Regions from separate parts of the Homo sapiens genome. Here region 2 is linked to region 1. The links come from fine-mapping of genetic effects on gene expression. Tissue or cell type: putamen. Region 1 holds a variant in brackets; the other region holds the start of a gene. All regions are shown on one strand. Distances are between the middles of the regions.

Region 1 (8,828 bases):
ATGTGAGCTTGGGAAAGAATTCTCCAGCCCATCAGGACTTGAGGTGACTGCAGTCCTGGCTGATACCTTGATTCTAATCTTCTAAGAGACCCTGAGCCAGAACTGTACAGCTAAGCTGCTTCCAGCTCCCTGACCCTCTAACGCTATGTGAGATAATATATGTTTGATGTTTTAAGCTGCTACATTTTGGAGAAATTCATTATGCGGCAATAGAGAACTAACACACAAGGAGACAAGTAATCCTCCAAGAGGTTTTCTGATAACAGTTGCGTAGAAGAAAACTTCAGATGTCTAAAATCACACTATTTAGCCCACTGCTTGCCTCAGCTCCTGAGATGATGATGGACAAAGACCTTGTCTTAAGGTGGAATACTGGGGTCTAAGCCTTGCTTCTAATGTATCAACTATGGAGAGAAAATCGACTTAGGGATCTTTTTTACACCATCTAGCAACTGGGGAGCAAGCATTCCCTCTTAAAGCCTTGACTCTCCCCAAGGCGCTGGTGGGTGGTTATTTATGGTTATTCTGAGTTATTACTGCATAACATCCACACAGGCAGTTAGCACAGTATTTATTGAGCAGCCTTTAATGATGAATAGAGTGAGAAACACCAGGCAAAGAATATGGTAATAACAGTACATAAATTTTATTTTCATTTAGCATGAAAACACCTGATTTCCTTCAACACTGTAAACATGTCACATTATTACACAGTGAAAGGCTGATGAATTTAAACATTCATGTGTACATTGTTTTGAATGGAAAATGTACTTTCATTCCACTTGCCTCCACCATTACAGATCATTTTGTTTTATTTATTTCACTTTAGCTTGTTTTAATTAAAAAAACAAAATCCGAGGAGAGAAAGTAACTAGAAGGTTTTCTCAGGATGGGATTGGTTATTTTCAAGACATTTGACTTCTTATTCTCCTCAGAAACAGAGAGACAGCCTCAGAATAGAACATTTTATGGTCAGAGTTGGCAAGTACCTCACGGTTTGTAGTTAATAAACATGATTAAACTAAATGTTCAGAAGGAAATTTTGCTAGACCATTTTTTTAAAAAAACAAAACACAATGAATGCACTCATTAATTATGTACAATTTTGTCATTGGGTAAAGAAAGAAATTTCAGGCTAGGAAGGCAACTTATTCCTAGACATAACGTTAAATAAATACGTGCCTTCAAACTTGAATTATTGCCCTGTAAAAAGACAGACAAATGTCTCAGCAACAGCTTCATTACTGTCAAGCTCATGATTTGTTGTTCCATTGACATGATGATGTGCTTTCTAGCACTAAGGTCTTGTCTGTTGTTGCAATAGAAACTCTTATTTTTAGAATTTATCATTTAGTTATTTAAAAAAAAGTTATAGTTGATCAAAAAGCATGGTAAATAAGCTCTCAGTATGCGTGCCAGTATGGGTGTATTGGAGTTACATTAGAAATGGGAGAAAAGGAACACCTATACACTCCTAACTACTACGCTAGTCCTGTTAAGCAGAATGTTGGAGGCTTAACGTGATTCAGCAGTGCCCTTTCTATTTAACACATTGCTTGCCTATGGGTGGAACTGTCATAGGTCAGGGTTATAGGTCACACATTTTTCCAAAGAAGAAAAATTAAGGAGTGGTCATAGGATGTGGCATCCTATTCACTAAGTGAGTTCTAAATTGCATTTCACAGATAATTTGATGTGGTTATGGGATGGCGCTGGAATGCAAGAAACAGATGGAGCACTGCAATTCTAGTCCTGGATATCTGTGTTCTTAAGAGGTGTGGCCAAATCGCAGGGTGACACAGAGTGAGGTGCCAGGATTCATCCAAAGCACCACAGTTTAGAGGGGAAAATATTTTAAAGTAACAATGTTAAACTATTGTGAGACATTTGAAGCCCCTTTCCTTATAAATAACTATCCATCTCTTCCTAGTCTCACATGTCTTGGCCACTATATAGCTGGAAAGAGCAGAAGACCTAGGGAATAACACAGTCAGGAGTCCCAAACTCACTTTTTATAATTTGAGTAATCGACTCCAACATCCTTTCTTCTTTAACATCTTTTATTCTAATCAATCCTAAGCACTGACTAGAGGGCATGCTTTGAGCTGCTGGTTCCAAGAATTAACATTTCCAACTGGACATTCATGCATACTCTCTTGACCACAGATGACAGAAACTAAAGTCAATCAAGTTCAAGGAAAAAAGAATAAAAAAGTTTTGGGCTTACAAAACTAGAAATTCCAGGCATGGTCACTGAGTTGAAGTTCTGTCTCCTGACATCCTAAAACCAAATTCTCTGACAGCATCAACAGGGCATGGGTTCTGAGCTGTTTCCCACATGTTGGCTTCATATTCAGATTCTCTCTCAATGTGGTAGGAAAGATGGTTCTGGCATTTTAGGCTGACATAGTCACCAGAGATCCTAATCCCAGAAAGACAGTGCATCTTTCATAATGACTTTGGAGAAAAGTCTTGGGGTGAGTTTTCATAGGCTTAGCTTGGGTCCTGAGCCCATTCTTGGGCAAATAAATATGACAAAGAGGGTGGAATATGTTGATTGGCTAGGGTTCAGCCATATGCCCAGGAGTATGGTGTTCCCTAAAAAGAGGGATGCTTTGTATACACACAAAAGTCAAGTTTACTATGGAAATGGTAACCCAAGGAATGGGAGAAAATGTCTGCAAATCTTGTATCTGATGAGGAGTTAATATCCAGAATATACAATTCAACAACAACAACAAAAACAACCCAATTAAAACATGGGCAAATGATTGAATTGACATTTCTCCAAAGATATACAAATGGCCAATATGCCATAATCATTAGGTAAATGCAAATTAAAACCACAATAAGATATCACCTCACACCCATTAGCATGGTTACTATAAAAAACAAACAGAAAATAACAAGTGTTGGTGAAGATGTGAAGAAAAGGAATTTTTGCACACTATTGTTAGAAATGTAAAGTGGTGTGGCTGCCATAGAAAGTATGGCAAGTATGGTAGTTCCTCAAAAAATTAAACATAGAATTACACAAGATCCAGCAATTCCACTTCTGGGTACATATCCAAAAGAACTTAAAGCAGGGACCCAGTTATTTGTATACCCATGTTCATAGCATCATTATTTGCAAGAGCCAAAAGGTAGAGGCAACCTAAATGCCCATCAATGGAAAAATAGAGAAACAAAATATAGTATACACACATATTATTAGTCAGCCTTAAAAAGGAAGAAAATTCTAACATAGGCTACAAAACAGGAGAACCTGAAAGAAATTTTGTTAAATGAAATCAGCCAGTCACAAAAGGACAAATACTATATGATTCTGTTTATATGAGGTACTTCAAGTAGTCAAATTCGTAGAGACAGAAAGTGGAGGAGTTGCTACAAGGTACTAAGGGGAGAGGAGAATGGGAAGTTATTGTTCAATGGGTAGAGTTTTAGTTTTAGAAGATGAAAAGAGTTTTGTGGATGGATGGTGGTGACAGCAGCACAACAATGTGGATGTACTTAATGCCATTGACTGTACACTTAAAAATGGTTAAGATCGTTACCTTTATCTGTATTTTACCACAATAATAAAAAAAAAAATCATCTCCACTAGGCGGAGGTTGCAGCGAGCTGAGATTGCGCCACTGCACTCCAGTTTGGTGACAGAACAAGACTCCGTCTCAAAAAAAAAAAAAAAAAAAAAATCATCTCCACTATAGAATTTCAGAAAAGAGGTAAACTTGGCTACATAGCTTTTCTCCACTTACCCTTTAGGAACTTGCTTCTGAACATCTTCCATTCAGATACTCCTAAAATCATAAATCATGCTGACTCAATGCTCCATCATGGTTTATTTTTCCTATATTAGGTGGCCCCAGAACCTTCCTAATTCCCCACTCTAATCAGAAGCCTGTCCAGTACCCTTCTTGGAACCATGCTGTAGGTTAGGGAGCCTGTAAGTCTGTTGTATTAAGAGCAGTTGATATGCATGCTTAAAGGTGTTTTAAAAGGGAGGAATCTGCAAAATGTATCTTAACTTAAATGCAAATTAATTGAGCAGCTTTAATTGAATAGTTATCTCTTGGGCCTTCATATAGGACTGGATATAATTCCAATCATCAAGTCAAATAATCAGCTTAGGGTCCTTTTACTGCTTATCTGCAGAACTAACATTCCTACTACATAAAGGCCATTTCTCACATAGGCAACACAGGAGTTACTTGGATGGCAATTATATTCACAGAGAGAAAAAACAGTGACAGTTAACTCCATTGCTTGCAATCTCACCTGCTCTTGATGGCACTTTCCCTCAGATCATACCCCTTCAAGTGCTAAACAACTCAACTGAAGTCAATGGACAGAAGATATGGTGCAATGAGCCTATTTTGCAGTCCAGATAATTTCCACCTAATGGACTAAGTTCCAATTCTGTCTGTGCTACCTACAGGTTGTATAATCTTGGGAGGTCACTTCAACTATACAATTGGACTAAGAACACTGACTCTCGTGGGTGTTATAATTAAATCAGGTAAT[A/G]TATGGTAAGGTAAGCATTGATTAGTCTCTTCATTAGTTGATTAGCCTCTTCAAATGTTAGTTTGATTAGTCTCTTCAAACGTTAGTTTCCTTCCTCTTTTCAGTATGCTCGCTGAAAAGCTGGCTACAGAGCGAGTGACTGAATCAAAGCATCACATCCTACATGCTCCCATTCCCCATCTTGCTACAGTGGTACCAGCTTCTGTGCCCAGAAGATGGTGCTGTGGTTGGATGAATAAAACAATTACAGGGCCTTCAAGGATAAGAAGAAGGAACATGGATAAATATCCCCATTCTGCCTAGACAGAAATAAGAAAAACATTCCCTTTTCTCTTCTTTAAAACGAATTCTTGAGTCATGCATGGCAACAATATGTGTTGCCAAAAGTGGCCAGTTTGTGGTAGTAGGTTTTATTCAGAAAATCAGTGGGTGATGAAAATTTAGAAGATGCACTCATCATTTGTAAAACTGTAGATGAAAGTTTAAAAGATGATGTTATACCACTTTTTCTTCACTGCCCTCATCAGTGGCTCCATCCCACCCTCCTGCTGTTCTCATAACTGATGTAGAAATAATTTCATGAGCCAAACAGGATGGTTTTATACGTGTGTGTTTGGCATTAACTTTATTTCCTATTCACGTACCAGATATTACTGCCCGCTCTTATGAAATAGTTTATTCCACCATAAATGTATGTTTTAATGATCACCACATTTTTTTGGAATACATTAATCTGTCTAAAAATAGGTGATTAAATCATCTGTCATTCTGCTGTGAAGCTCTTTAATGTTTTCTTTGGGAAATAAATTAGAATGCCATATTGGTTTCCAAGCAGACATAAGCTGGCGATGACTTTTTTGTACAAAAGTTACTGATGAAAAGCTCATAGAGGCATTTGGATTTCTTCAGGGTTGTAAATCCAGGTATGTTACTACTTTATCTACTGGAAATTGGGGTAATGCAGGAGATGGGAAAGCATGATGTTAAATCAACTGGTGACCCCAAATAATTTTCCATGGTGTTCATCAGCCATGCACACACTGTATTACTGTCATCATTCCTAGCTTTTCCACTATGCTGTCTCAAGTTTGCACAAATTGTAAGTGATTTTAAATCATTAACTGATGTGACATAATCAAATTACTTAGGGTTTTATTTACTGTGCTCCGAGTAATTCAGTTATGACTTGGCAAGGTATTTAACAGACAATAGTGAAGTTACTACAAATTCAACTTTGCATTGGACAACTCCATTTGAGGATACCACCACCTTCAAATTAACAATTCCAGAAACTGGTCTCAGTATCTCGTTCCAACAACAAGCATCACCCACTACAATAAAAACAGCAAGTAGAATCTTTTTACTTCTTTTGTGTTTCTCATCTCGGCAAACTGCACTACAATCTACCAAACTGCCCGAGCCAGAAACCTAGAGGTCAGGCTGGATTTTCCTGAGGACATGAGGTGAAGAAGCAACCACTGCGAAGTACTAAGGTATTCTTAATACCCTAATTTCTTTGAATCTATGCACTGTCTCATATTCATGCCCATCACCTAATTCAGGAATCTCTCCAGGATCCTGCACCAGCCTCTTAGATCCCTCACTCTCCTCAGCCTGGCCAGAGTAACTATTATAAGATATAAACTGGGACACATAAATCCTCTGTTAACAAACCTTTCATTCAGTACCTACTGATACCCGAGTAAAACTGAAATTGGTTGATGCTGTATTAAAAATCCTCACCAAGTGGCCCTTGTTTTTTTTTCAGTCTCATTTCTTACTATTCCTTTTATTCACTCCATGCTTCAGAAACAAGAATTACTTGCAGTTCCCTGACTACACCATTCTACCCTTCTCCCTCTTACCTGCATTCTCTTACATATTTTCCACTTTGCTTATATGCTTCCAATCCAGTCCTGCAAATGCTCTGGCCTTCTCGGTTTTGTCCTTGGGGCTTCAGCTTTGGACTCATTTTCTCCAAGAATCTTCCCTTTAAGGGCTGGTTAGGTTTCTCTGCAAGTGACTCACCATGCCCCTGTGCTTATCCCCTGCTAACACCCTTCATTCGTTATCTTAAGAGTCACCCCGATTGAAAAGCATAAGAACCTTAAGGGTCAGGACTGTGATGAGTTTAGGGTCAGCAGTACTCTGCTGTGGTTCTGTGGAGGATGATTTACTTGGTGGTCCCTCTACCTTTTCCAGTACACCCTCTTTCAATTCTATGTATTTTCACTGAAGGCTCACCAGAAAACTAAAATGGCAGCATCATAGCAGACATAAGGCACACAAATCTAAGATTTCATGACCACAAAGGACAATGCATTGCCCTTTAGCCATAGAGACACTGTCCCTGCAAGCTGCAATCAAAAGGCATTTTGTTGGGAGGGAAAATAGTCATCTGGCTTATATGGAGTTATATGCATTGTCAGAGATCCTTTAGCATATTACATTTGGAGATCTTTCAAACTGTGTGCTAACACAGACCTGGAAGGTTCTGTGGATGAAGGAAAAGCTAAGGAATAATGGCTACTATTTCCATTGAAAGTCAGAACTTGGGCACAATGAACATTTTCCCCTTGAGGCTCTGAGAGGGCATCTTTGTTGATTGCAGTATATCTCAAGAATTGACTCTGGCACAGTCAAATGTAGACTGCTTTGTGTAGCGACCTGTGTATTAGCACACATGCATACTTTGCCAGAATTACATCCAATAACTTTTAAAGAATATACAAAACCATGCAGAGATGTTAAATAATGGTTATTAGTCTGGGTGCAGTGGCTCACACCTGTAATCTCAGCACTTTCGGAGTCTGAGGCAGGAGGATTGCTTGAGTCCAGGAGTTCGAGGTTACAGTGAGCTATGATGGTGCCACTGCACTTCAGCCTGGGCAACAAAGCAAGACCCTGGATCAAAAAATAAATGGTTCTCTTTTGGTAACTAAACAACATCCGACACTTAAAATTTTTTTTGTTGTTGTTTGTTTCAGGGACTCAGAATCATGAACCACAGTTTGCAGAGAGATCTGATTTTTACATGTTTGTTTGTGTGTGGCTTTAAGTAATGTAAGTCAATTAAGCCTACTAATATTGCATACTTTTTCTTTTATGAAAGGGAAAAAGGGAGTATAAAGGAGGCAATCGCTGATTCATTGTAAACGTTTTTTATCCAGACGATCATTCTCAGGTCACATACAACCTTTCTTCAATTACATCTTTGCTTATGGCCATCCTTGTTCTTTATTTCCATAAATTAGGCCAGCAAATACTCCAGCTAAGGTATAAAAACTTACACAGGTCCTGTGTATGTTTTCTTCTCTCCTTTTCCCTTTCAAATCTAGCTCGATCATTTCTTTTCTTTTCTTTTTTTTTTTGAGACAGAGTCTTGCTCTGTCTTCCAGGCTAGAGTGCAGTGGCGTGATCACAGCTCGCTGCAGCCTCCACCTCCCAGGCTCATGCGATCTTCCCGTCTTGGCACCATGAGTAGCTGGGACTACAGGCACGCACTATCACATCTGGCTATTAGAAAAAGAGAGACAGAGAGAGAGACAGGGTCTCTCTATGTTGCCCAGGCTGGTCCTGAACTCCTGAACTCAAGTGATCCTCCCACCGGCCTCCCAAAGTGCTGGGATTATAGGAATGAGCCATCACACATGGTCCTCTACCACTTTAAATCTCTTCAATTCTAGATCATGCTCATGCAAGTGTTTTCCTGAAGTTTATACATTGTAATGGATGAATCAACAACACAAAAAATAAATGTGTATCATGCTGGATTAATCTAAGAACTAAGTATTTTTTCTTAGTAAAGAAGGAAAATGCTAGAGGTGTTGGGAAGCAGGTGCAATTTCAGAGAGGAGGACCTTTACAGCAAAAAGGTGTTCTTTAAGAACTGAAGAAACCCAGGGCATAGGTGATGCAAAGATCTGGGTGAAAACCTTTTCAAGTGGAAGGAATGGTGAGTGCAAAAGGCCTGCAGCAGGTGGGTGGGTGCAGGTATGTGCCAAACACGGAGGTGCCAGTTTGGCAGTGAGTTGTGAGACAGAGGAAGGGAGAGCTCACCAGGGATGCTGCCTGTGGGCTTACAGGCCATTGCAAAGGTCACTGGTGTTTGTGCCAAGCGAGCTGGTGGTTTCCAAGAAGAGGAGAGAGATATCCTCTGATGCACGGTATGTTTCTGGCTAGTGTGATGAGATGGTGAAAGGGTGTGAGGGCCAGAGAAGGGAGACTAAGCTAGAGGCTGATGTACTTATCTATGTGAGAAAGGATGCTGGTTTCAGCTGGGGTGGTAGTCGTGGGAGAGGTGA
Region 2 (8,828 bases), 81 kb after region 1:
TCTAAAAGGAAACAGCTGCCTAAACACTTTCTCCTAATTAAACTGCTTTGAGTTTTGTGCAAAAAGCATGAAATAAACATTTGTCTCACAAATCATTCCCTCTGTCATTCTTCCAGTTTCTCAAATCATTAGCATGCTCTTATATATTAATATGCTATGAATAAATATCTTTGATTATAGGGTAATTAAGCTTTCAAAATATAAAAGTAAATTTTTAAAATTTGCAAACTTTACATTTTAAAATACCAAATATGATGGCAATATATACATATTGCTCTTCCTCCATATCTGTTCTAATTCAAATACAATACAAAATAAGACTGTGATGTTCCAAACTTCATTTTCTAATGGTAAAATACTATTTTATTCTATTTCCTCTCATTTTACCCATCAGATGAACAATTAAAAAATGCAGTCTAAAATATTCCAGTAATAATTAAAGAAAGTGCAGGTGATTTCTTTAAAACATAATCACAAAATGCAGTAGCAATTACATTTACAAATATACTTTGAACTATTAGAGATAATACTTTTCTGAGAAGAACTTAAAGGTGAAAGTGAGGTCCTATTAACAGTTCATCCAAACATGGAGCCCCAAACTGGAATATATCCAATAGCTTGGAAGTTTCTCTTTCCTTTAACTATCTGCCTTGACTAAGACAGATGTTTTGCAAATATATGGACTCTAAAGTGTGAGCCAGTTCCCTTAGAGCCAATCCACACTGAGCGAGCACACAGAGTGTCTTTATTAGGCCATCTGCTGTTCATTCACTTTTCAAAAAGATTAAAGTAGTACACAATGCAGTGCTGGAATTAGTTTAGTCTAATCAATCATAGTTATACTTCAAAGTACTATGTCCTTTCTGAGTTGTTCATAATAATTCTGGAGCGAAACTTTTAGAATTGTAAAAGTGACAAATAGGTTTAGGTTGCTAACTATTTTATGAAACATGATATATTTCTATATATATCACAAGAACCCTTGTGATCTGCTTCACAAACATGCATCATTTAATGTGTTTAAAATGCTATTTTGCCTATAAGCTCTGAATATGGAAAGAATATTTTCATTTTCATAGCGATAATGAAGTAAGTATATTTTTAAGAATATTATCAGTCAATTTTGAAAATCATCAAATTTGACTAAAGGTGTTACTTCTAAATATTTTCAGCAACCAGAATTTAACTGAATTTGATACGTATCGTTGAAAATAAATTGACCAATAAACTATTACTTTTCTACATATTTATCAAAACTTAAAGAACGTTTTAAATTTTCAAATCAACTTAATGAAAACAGACTCTTTGTTCTACTACACAATGGACATTAAATGTGCACTTCATAATAGTAGTGTTATTCCAAAGATATTCATTCTAATTTATCGATTAACAATACCAAATACTCTAACAGAAATATAGTTAAATGACGCTTGATTAAATATTCTTTCGTCTCTTCTTTACAGAATTTCTCCTTGGTACACTCAAGACTTGGGCTATACTCATCAGTTATTATCAATATTGTGAAATAGAAGGCTTTTCCAAAGAGACGCTGAATCATGAAGATAAATATTCATTATAGTAACCTTTTATAAATAAGACATAGACCAAAATTACACATTTCAGAAAAAACTCATATACATGAACTCAATTCTGAATATATAGGATGTTTCTTCTAATGATAAATCTAAACATCATTAGAATAATGTACTCACAACACTATAAAGCCTCAACTAACCTTTACAAATTTCTATTAACGTCTATATGTTCATTTTCTAAATAGAACAGAAAACCTTTGGCTCAGAAAACTACGATGTTCACGTAGGAAAGTTTATGCTTCTTTACTAAAATATATACATTTTGTTCTAATTCAGAAATTTGCAGATAACTGAAAAGAACAACAAAATTGGATTAAAGTGAGTGGAAATTTTGCAGATCAAAGTAAAGACTGCTCCCACAAAGGGCAGCCTCATTTCCAGAATGGTTTCTGGAATATCTTGTACAAACTTGAAAGAATTTCGTTTTATTCCCCACTGTCATCTGATTAATCATAAACATTACCCAAAACACTCATTACATTCCATCATTTCTGCATACAACAGTAAGCAAAACTGCTTGTTTTCAAAATGCCCTGAAAATTAATTTAAATACATGTTTAATATCTATTGTCAGTTTCTCTGATGGTGTCAAAGCAATTTTAAGGTTTCATTCTCATTATCGTGCCATCTTAGATTGGTGACTCTCAATGGGATGAGAAGTGGGTGGGGGTGAGAATTTTGCCTGCCAGGGGACACTTAAACAGTCTGGATACATTTTTGGTTGTCTTTAGTAAGACATCTTTGGTTGCTTCTTTAGTAAAGAAGCATCTGGGGGAGTGCTGCTGGCATTCTGGGATAGATGCAGCCAAACATCTTACAGTGCAGAGGATAGCTTTCCCACACTAAAGAATTAGCCCAAGTCTTTAACAGTGCTGATGTTGATAATCCCTGCCCTGGATCACTGCTGTGGAATAAAACTTTCCACAGTGTTGGAAATGTTCTGTATCTGAGCTGTCCAATATGGTAGCTGCTAACCACATGCAGCTGTTAAACACTTGAAATGTGTTTAAACTTGAAAATTCAGTTAAATTTTGGTTGCTGAAAATATTGAGAACTTAACGCCTCTAGTCGTACTTGATGATTTTCAAAATCAATTAATAAAAATATACTTACTGCAATATTGCTGTGAAAATGAAAATAAAAAACAAAATTTTTAATTTTATCAAATTTTAATAACCACATATGACTGGTGGCTACCTTACTGGACAGCACGTCCCTAGATACTTCTTTAAAAATTTGCGAAAATATCTACAAAGACAATATGAGTGAATTTCAGACAGGATGATTGTTCATGCCTATTTCTTTTTCCATCTATTTTCTGATGGGGCATTACAGAAAGGACCCAGGGACTGATCATAAGGACATGGTTTTAGATTTGTTTATACCACTGACCAGCTGTGAGGCCTTGACTGTATGGCCTTAACCACTTTTAACTTCTCTTGTCTACAAAACGGATCAGAGAGCTCTGAAATTCCTTCTGGAGCTAACACTTTATAGTTTTGTCATTCAGCTTTCAATTAACTTGTAGTATACTACTGAAGTAGGTCAGCAATAAGTTAATAACTCCATTCCTTTCCTTAACAATTTGTTCATATAGATTTATTTTGCAGAAAGTTTACAAAAGCTATGGTAAGTGTGCAATACAGAATACTGAACTGGTAACTATCTCCTGAGAGGCAGGTAAACTGCTAGAAAAGATGTGGATTAGTACATATGAGTCTCTGTGCAAAGTTTATGTACTATTATTTCTTTCTTGGAGTACTAATATTTATGTAAATATATGGCAACTGCTTCTAATCGGTGTGAACTAGTGAAATTAGATCATCTGTAAAAATCAAATATATGCTATAATGACATAATACTCTAAGACATATCTCAACTATTTTTACACAAAACATACTGACAAAAAAATCCTTATAACATGAGCACATGGATAAATGTAAAATGTATTAAAGTAGAATAACAGAACCGAGATTCAATTACCACAAATACTTTCCTAGGTTTAATGTTCTTCTTTCTGATGTACCCGATCCTCCTCAGGTTAGAAAAATCCTTTCACCAGATAAAAAGCCGAAGAAATATTGTAACTTAAAAAAATTTAATTAAGTCTACTTAATTCATGCCCTTTGTGCCCAGCTGGGAGTTATCAGGTATTTATATTTTAAAGGGATTGATGTTTAAAGACATGCTATTGTTCTCTTTGAAGCATTCGAGCGCTCTCAGAGGCTGGGTTCTAATGCAACCAGCATGTGCTCTCCTGCAGCCCATTAACCTTTAATACTTGTCACTCAGCTGCTTACACAGGAGGAGTTTTTTAAACCCAGAGAGGAAACAAGGTTATTTAGAAGGAATCAAATGGATAGTTTTACATCTCGAATGTTAAACAGAAGGCAGTTTTTATGTAATTCAAATGGGTAAGTTGAAGAAGCAAGGTCAGCTACTACAACTTAATTATTAAATTAATTAAACATCGTATAAAATAATTTTGAAGGAAGTTAAGTTTACTTATCCATAATAAGAAAGTCATGGGACTTTTGCTGTCAACTAAAATATCAAGCGAAATTATTCTAAATATAATTTATAACAATGCATACTGCTATGACTATGAGTTCTCAAAAAATAAGAATTTGTTTCTAACTTTATAAGGATCAAAGTTCTAAGAGCTTGGATGCTTATGTTGCTTATTCCCGAGGAGGAGGATGTGGATGCACCCCCATGTGTACGTAAGGACACACGAGCTAAAGGCTTTACCTGACCCAGTAAAAGTGTCAAGCGCTCCATCTCCAGTCGTGGCTGTGGTTTCACTGCTGTTCAAGGGCTCTGTTTTGACTGCAAGAAGAGACACTACGTAGAAGAATAAGTACATGTGAGTTTTACTTCTAAATTTATGTCAAAGACTCTGTCCGTTCTACTAGTGATATTTCTAGCTACCATGGGCATGCAAGAGAAAACCTGAGAAGTTGATGAAGAGAGTTTGTTAATTTAGCTTCTAAACGGGCATGCATTTAGAGGATTTAATCTAAAATCCTCTGGCCAAGCTAGTTCTCTCAAATCCAGCTTTTAAAGGCAGTCAGCCTTAAAAAGTGAAACAGCAGTACACATATTTGTATTTTTAATTCACCTAAACACACTCTCATATAGTCAATAGGAAAGAAGGAATCATCATCAGTCTTCAGCACATTTAATTAAAATTATACCAAAGAAATTTACTAGCTTATATTTTATTTTTCCCAGGAAGATATTTTTTAAGTTTGCATAATAATACAATGGAGACATATAAAAGTATAGAAACCATGGGCTCATTCACACAATGAATGAAAAATGAAGCACTCAATGAAGCTCTAAAAAAGACTCACGAGCTATAAGGTGTTGGGCTTCATACTTTAATGGCATAACAATTTTTAATATGTTTAGAGATAAGCGTAGAAAAAGAGATGACTTCTACAGCAGCAAGTACACCTTTTGAAAACTCATTTTAATATGTTATTTCTACGTGGTAATGGTGTATTTTGGCAAAATCTTTGCTTGGTAACAAAGTGGCCTAGTACACATTATTATCATTATTAGATGCAACAAGGGTGATGGGGCGTGAGAATAAAGTTTTACCCATTTGGTCACACCATATTTTCCCTTTGTTGGCAAGGCTTTACTACATATATCATAGCAGCAAGGAAATAAACTAAGCTATTTTCTACTTAACACCTCTTGTGTTTCCTGGTCATAAGTGAAATGAATGATACAGTTAAATAACTTAGAAGCAAGCAGAAAATTATAAAGAAGAAAGCTGAAGACTAGCCAAAGGACAAAAAAGAACAGTCAGTCATAGGGTACCCACCAATCACACAAGTCAGTAATGTTATTCTGTTAGAAAAGAAATTAATTGATAGAAAACCATGCGGTAATGATTATGCTCTTTTCCACATGAACAGAATTAACCAGACCTTCAGTGAGCTCTGGGTTAATTTAGTATCCATTATTTATTAATGACATGATCAGCTGGAAGATTCAGAGGAGAAATGTAAATGTTGGAAACAGAAAGTAAAGAAACTTGGATTACTTTTCTTAGCAAAAAAGCAAACTCAAGTTTGACTTATCTTTCAAGAGCAACAATGATCTGAAGAGTAGTCTAATTATTTATATAATGATAAATAATGAATTGGTGGTTATTACTTTTCAGTAGTAATTTGCACAGTAATCCCTATTATGGTTATACCTTATCAATAACTAAACCTATCATTATAAAATCATTTTATCACCTTTATATTTACTACTATAAAACTAATACTTATTGAGAGCTTGCTACGTGCTAGATGATGTACATTTAGCTAATCCTTAAAACAACTCTAATTAATACAAATCACTATAACCATTTTATAGACAAGGAAACTGAAGTTCAGGGGGGCTGAAAAGCCTGCATAAGTTCCAGTGCAGGAGACGGTAGAGCTAAGATTTGAACTCAGGTTTTTAGCTCTAGTATGCAGGATCTTTCCACCGTATCAGGCTGCCTTCAGGTACGAAAATAGCTTATGCTCATGACAGTGTCTCTTCTCAAAGGCCCAAAGCATGATGAGAATGCAATTATCTCCTAGATAGAATAATTAAAAATACTTCACTGAAAATAAAAACTGCAAAATACTGGAATAGGATACTAAGGCATGTTTCCCATTTCTTCCTCATGGGATATTTTAAAAGACATCAAGAAGTAGCAAATTTGAAATTAGGTAACAGTAACAGCACACCCTTAAAATGAACTTGATACATTCCAGGCACTTCTCTTGTCCTTTACACCTACTGATTTACTCCTCTCAACAGTCAGTAGATAATATCATCATCTTTATTTTTCAGATAAGGAAACTGAGGCACAAAAAGGTTAAATAACGTCCCCAGTCACAAAGCTTGTAAGAGCTAGAATTTGAGACCAAGTAGTGTGTGTTCAGAATCCAAACTCTTAAACCATACTGCCTCTCAGGCAGCACTAGCTAATCAAGAATTCCTTTTGTCTGTATGAAGATAATGCAGAGTATAATCTAGATGGGTATCAAGGCTACTCCATTTCACGCAATGTTTACAATTGAGTTCTAACATTTATGACAAAAAGTCATGGCCCAAAGCCTTCAGCAAAACTAAGAAACAGTTTATCAGAGCTTCTGACTTCTACTTGCAGCTAAATTCCTATTTATGCATATCTATATCTACGAACAATATTTGCAAAAGTAGCTTTATTATACTAATTGTAATATAGATTTTACTTGCGAATGGAGGTGGCAGAATGTGAGCTGTGTCTAACGAAACTGGTCTAGAAGCCAGACATGAAGATTAGTTTTGTTACTTTGAATTTCAACTTTGAGACCCAATTTCAAAAGCTTAGTATTGATTTTGATTATAATCTCTTCAATTTGAAAGTTTGGGGAGGTCAAAAGGAGAAAGAAGAAGGAGAGAGTGAGTTTTTGGTCTAATTCATTATACTGGAAACATCTCTCATTAAAATTTTAAAGGTTTGCTTTTAGTCAAAGATAGACAAAGGAAGTTCATTTTACTGAGAAAAGCCATCCCTGGGAAAGTATATGAAGAGAGGAGTAACAAGCAAGATGTGTTAGCTTTACTAAAATGCCTGAATTTTAAAGTAATGGATGCTAACATTTGAGGGGAAGTGGTACATGTTAATGTAAAATTGTTTTTCCTATGCAAGGGTAGAACAAAATGGAAAAGTAGAAATAAAACATTTATTCTGTCACAGAAAATAAGCTGCATTCATACTAAGTGAGCATCAACAAGCACCTCTTGATCTCTAAGTAAGTCCCAAAGTTATTTTGGTTTGATTTTTCTAAATAAAAAGCAGTAATATTAGGTAATAATAAACAACTATTTTTTCAGCAGTAGAAAGCTCAAATAGAGAAGTGAATAGACACTCCTTATATTATTAGCTGATTTATTAAGACATGTTAGAATACGAAGAAGTATTATCTTGATATTTATATAACAGTTAACTAGTATAAAGTAAACATTATATAATAATTATAGATAAAGCTTGGAAAACAACGTTATTTTCACTGAAGCTAGAAATATATTTGAAATGTATTCTTTTTTCTTTTATCTTGCTTTTGTTTCTGCACTTTAAATTACACCTACTATATACTTTTCTAGTGGCAGGAAACTTTCATTAAATATATGCAAGACACTATTGGAAAAATGTTCATTAGTAAGACAAATCTAGTCTTATTACTACTAACTTGTAAAAATCCTTATTCCAAATAATTATCAGTGCCTATTCCTTGACTGTTCAAATGTATGTTAAGCTATATTTTGTCTTTCTTAAATTAACATGAAGTTTAAATGGGGCTTTTAATTTTCAGGACAGCAAACCAAAATCATTACATGCAATAAAATGGAAGCAAAATCCTTTTATAGAAGACAAGCACCGTATTTCTCAACCAAATGCAAGCTTACACACCAAATGTTTTGATTTCAAAAGAAACAATATTTTAATGTCCTAGGTTGAAGAGTTTTGTGGGATTATTATTCTGTATCTTCAAAGTAAGTGAGTCAGAGCTCGTTTTGCTAAAAGTGGCATAAAATTACTTTCTATACCACTTTGTCGAGAACCGTTAAGAAATCCTTGTACTGTCAGGTCCCCCTCCCCACTAGTTAGCTACTTGCAATTTGGATGTTTCTGATAGAGTCAAATGGTAAAAATAAATAAACATACATGATTGGCTTTTCCATTTTTTTAGCTTTAAAAATAATTCTTATCTATAGACTAAATCAAGGTCATACATAATTATTGTCAGGTACCAGTAATGGCTACTAAATCACAGATTTCCTGTCTTCACATCCCAACCTTCATCCCTACTGCCATACACTTATTTTTAAAGCAGTCTTACTCTTGTCCCCTTAAATTGTCTTTAGAAGTTAAGTATAACATTAATGTCGATTAATTACTTTTAGAGAAAGTCTGTTTTATTATCATAACTCAAAGTTCATATTCATATGTTGCAATTCAGGCTTCATCCTCGAAAGGTAACCCACATAATTTACATTTACATTTCATCTTCATAAATCAGTGTAGTTTAAACATAGATTAAGGTGTGTGTGCACCAGTTTAAGGTGTCCATTTAAAAAACTACATATATGTAATTCCACATACACTTCTTTCTGAACCACAAAAATCACATATAGAGGCTTTTGACAGCTTAGTTTCTACAAAGAATTTCAGAAAGAGTTAGATCAGGAAAG

What was found. PIP is the estimated chance that this variant, and not a neighbour inherited with it, causes the effect.
Region 2: it holds the start of EYA4-AS2, and the variant in region 1 is fine-mapped to the expression of EYA4-AS2 in putamen (GTEx, PIP above 0.99).

Annotation. Positions count from the first base shown.
Region 1 is chr6:133,532,969-133,541,796 of GRCh38, reverse strand. It overlaps TARID (TCF21 antisense RNA inducing promoter demethylation), which reads left to right. Exons shown (of 9, transcript NR_109982.1): 6 at 4,439-6,017. Among named protein-coding and RNA genes, the nearest start is that of EYA4-AS2, 81 kb to the right of the region's middle. The variant A/G (reference allele first, on the strand shown) is at 4,525.
Region 2 is chr6:133,452,167-133,460,994 of GRCh38, reverse strand. EYA4-AS2 (EYA4 antisense RNA 2) reads left to right here and starts at 4,390. Exons shown (of 3, transcript NR_199014.1): 1 at 4,390-4,461; 2 at 7,333-7,387; 3 at 7,949-8,310. It overlaps EYA4 (EYA transcriptional coactivator and phosphatase 4), which reads right to left. Exons shown (of 20, transcript NM_004100.5): 6 at 4,347-4,439.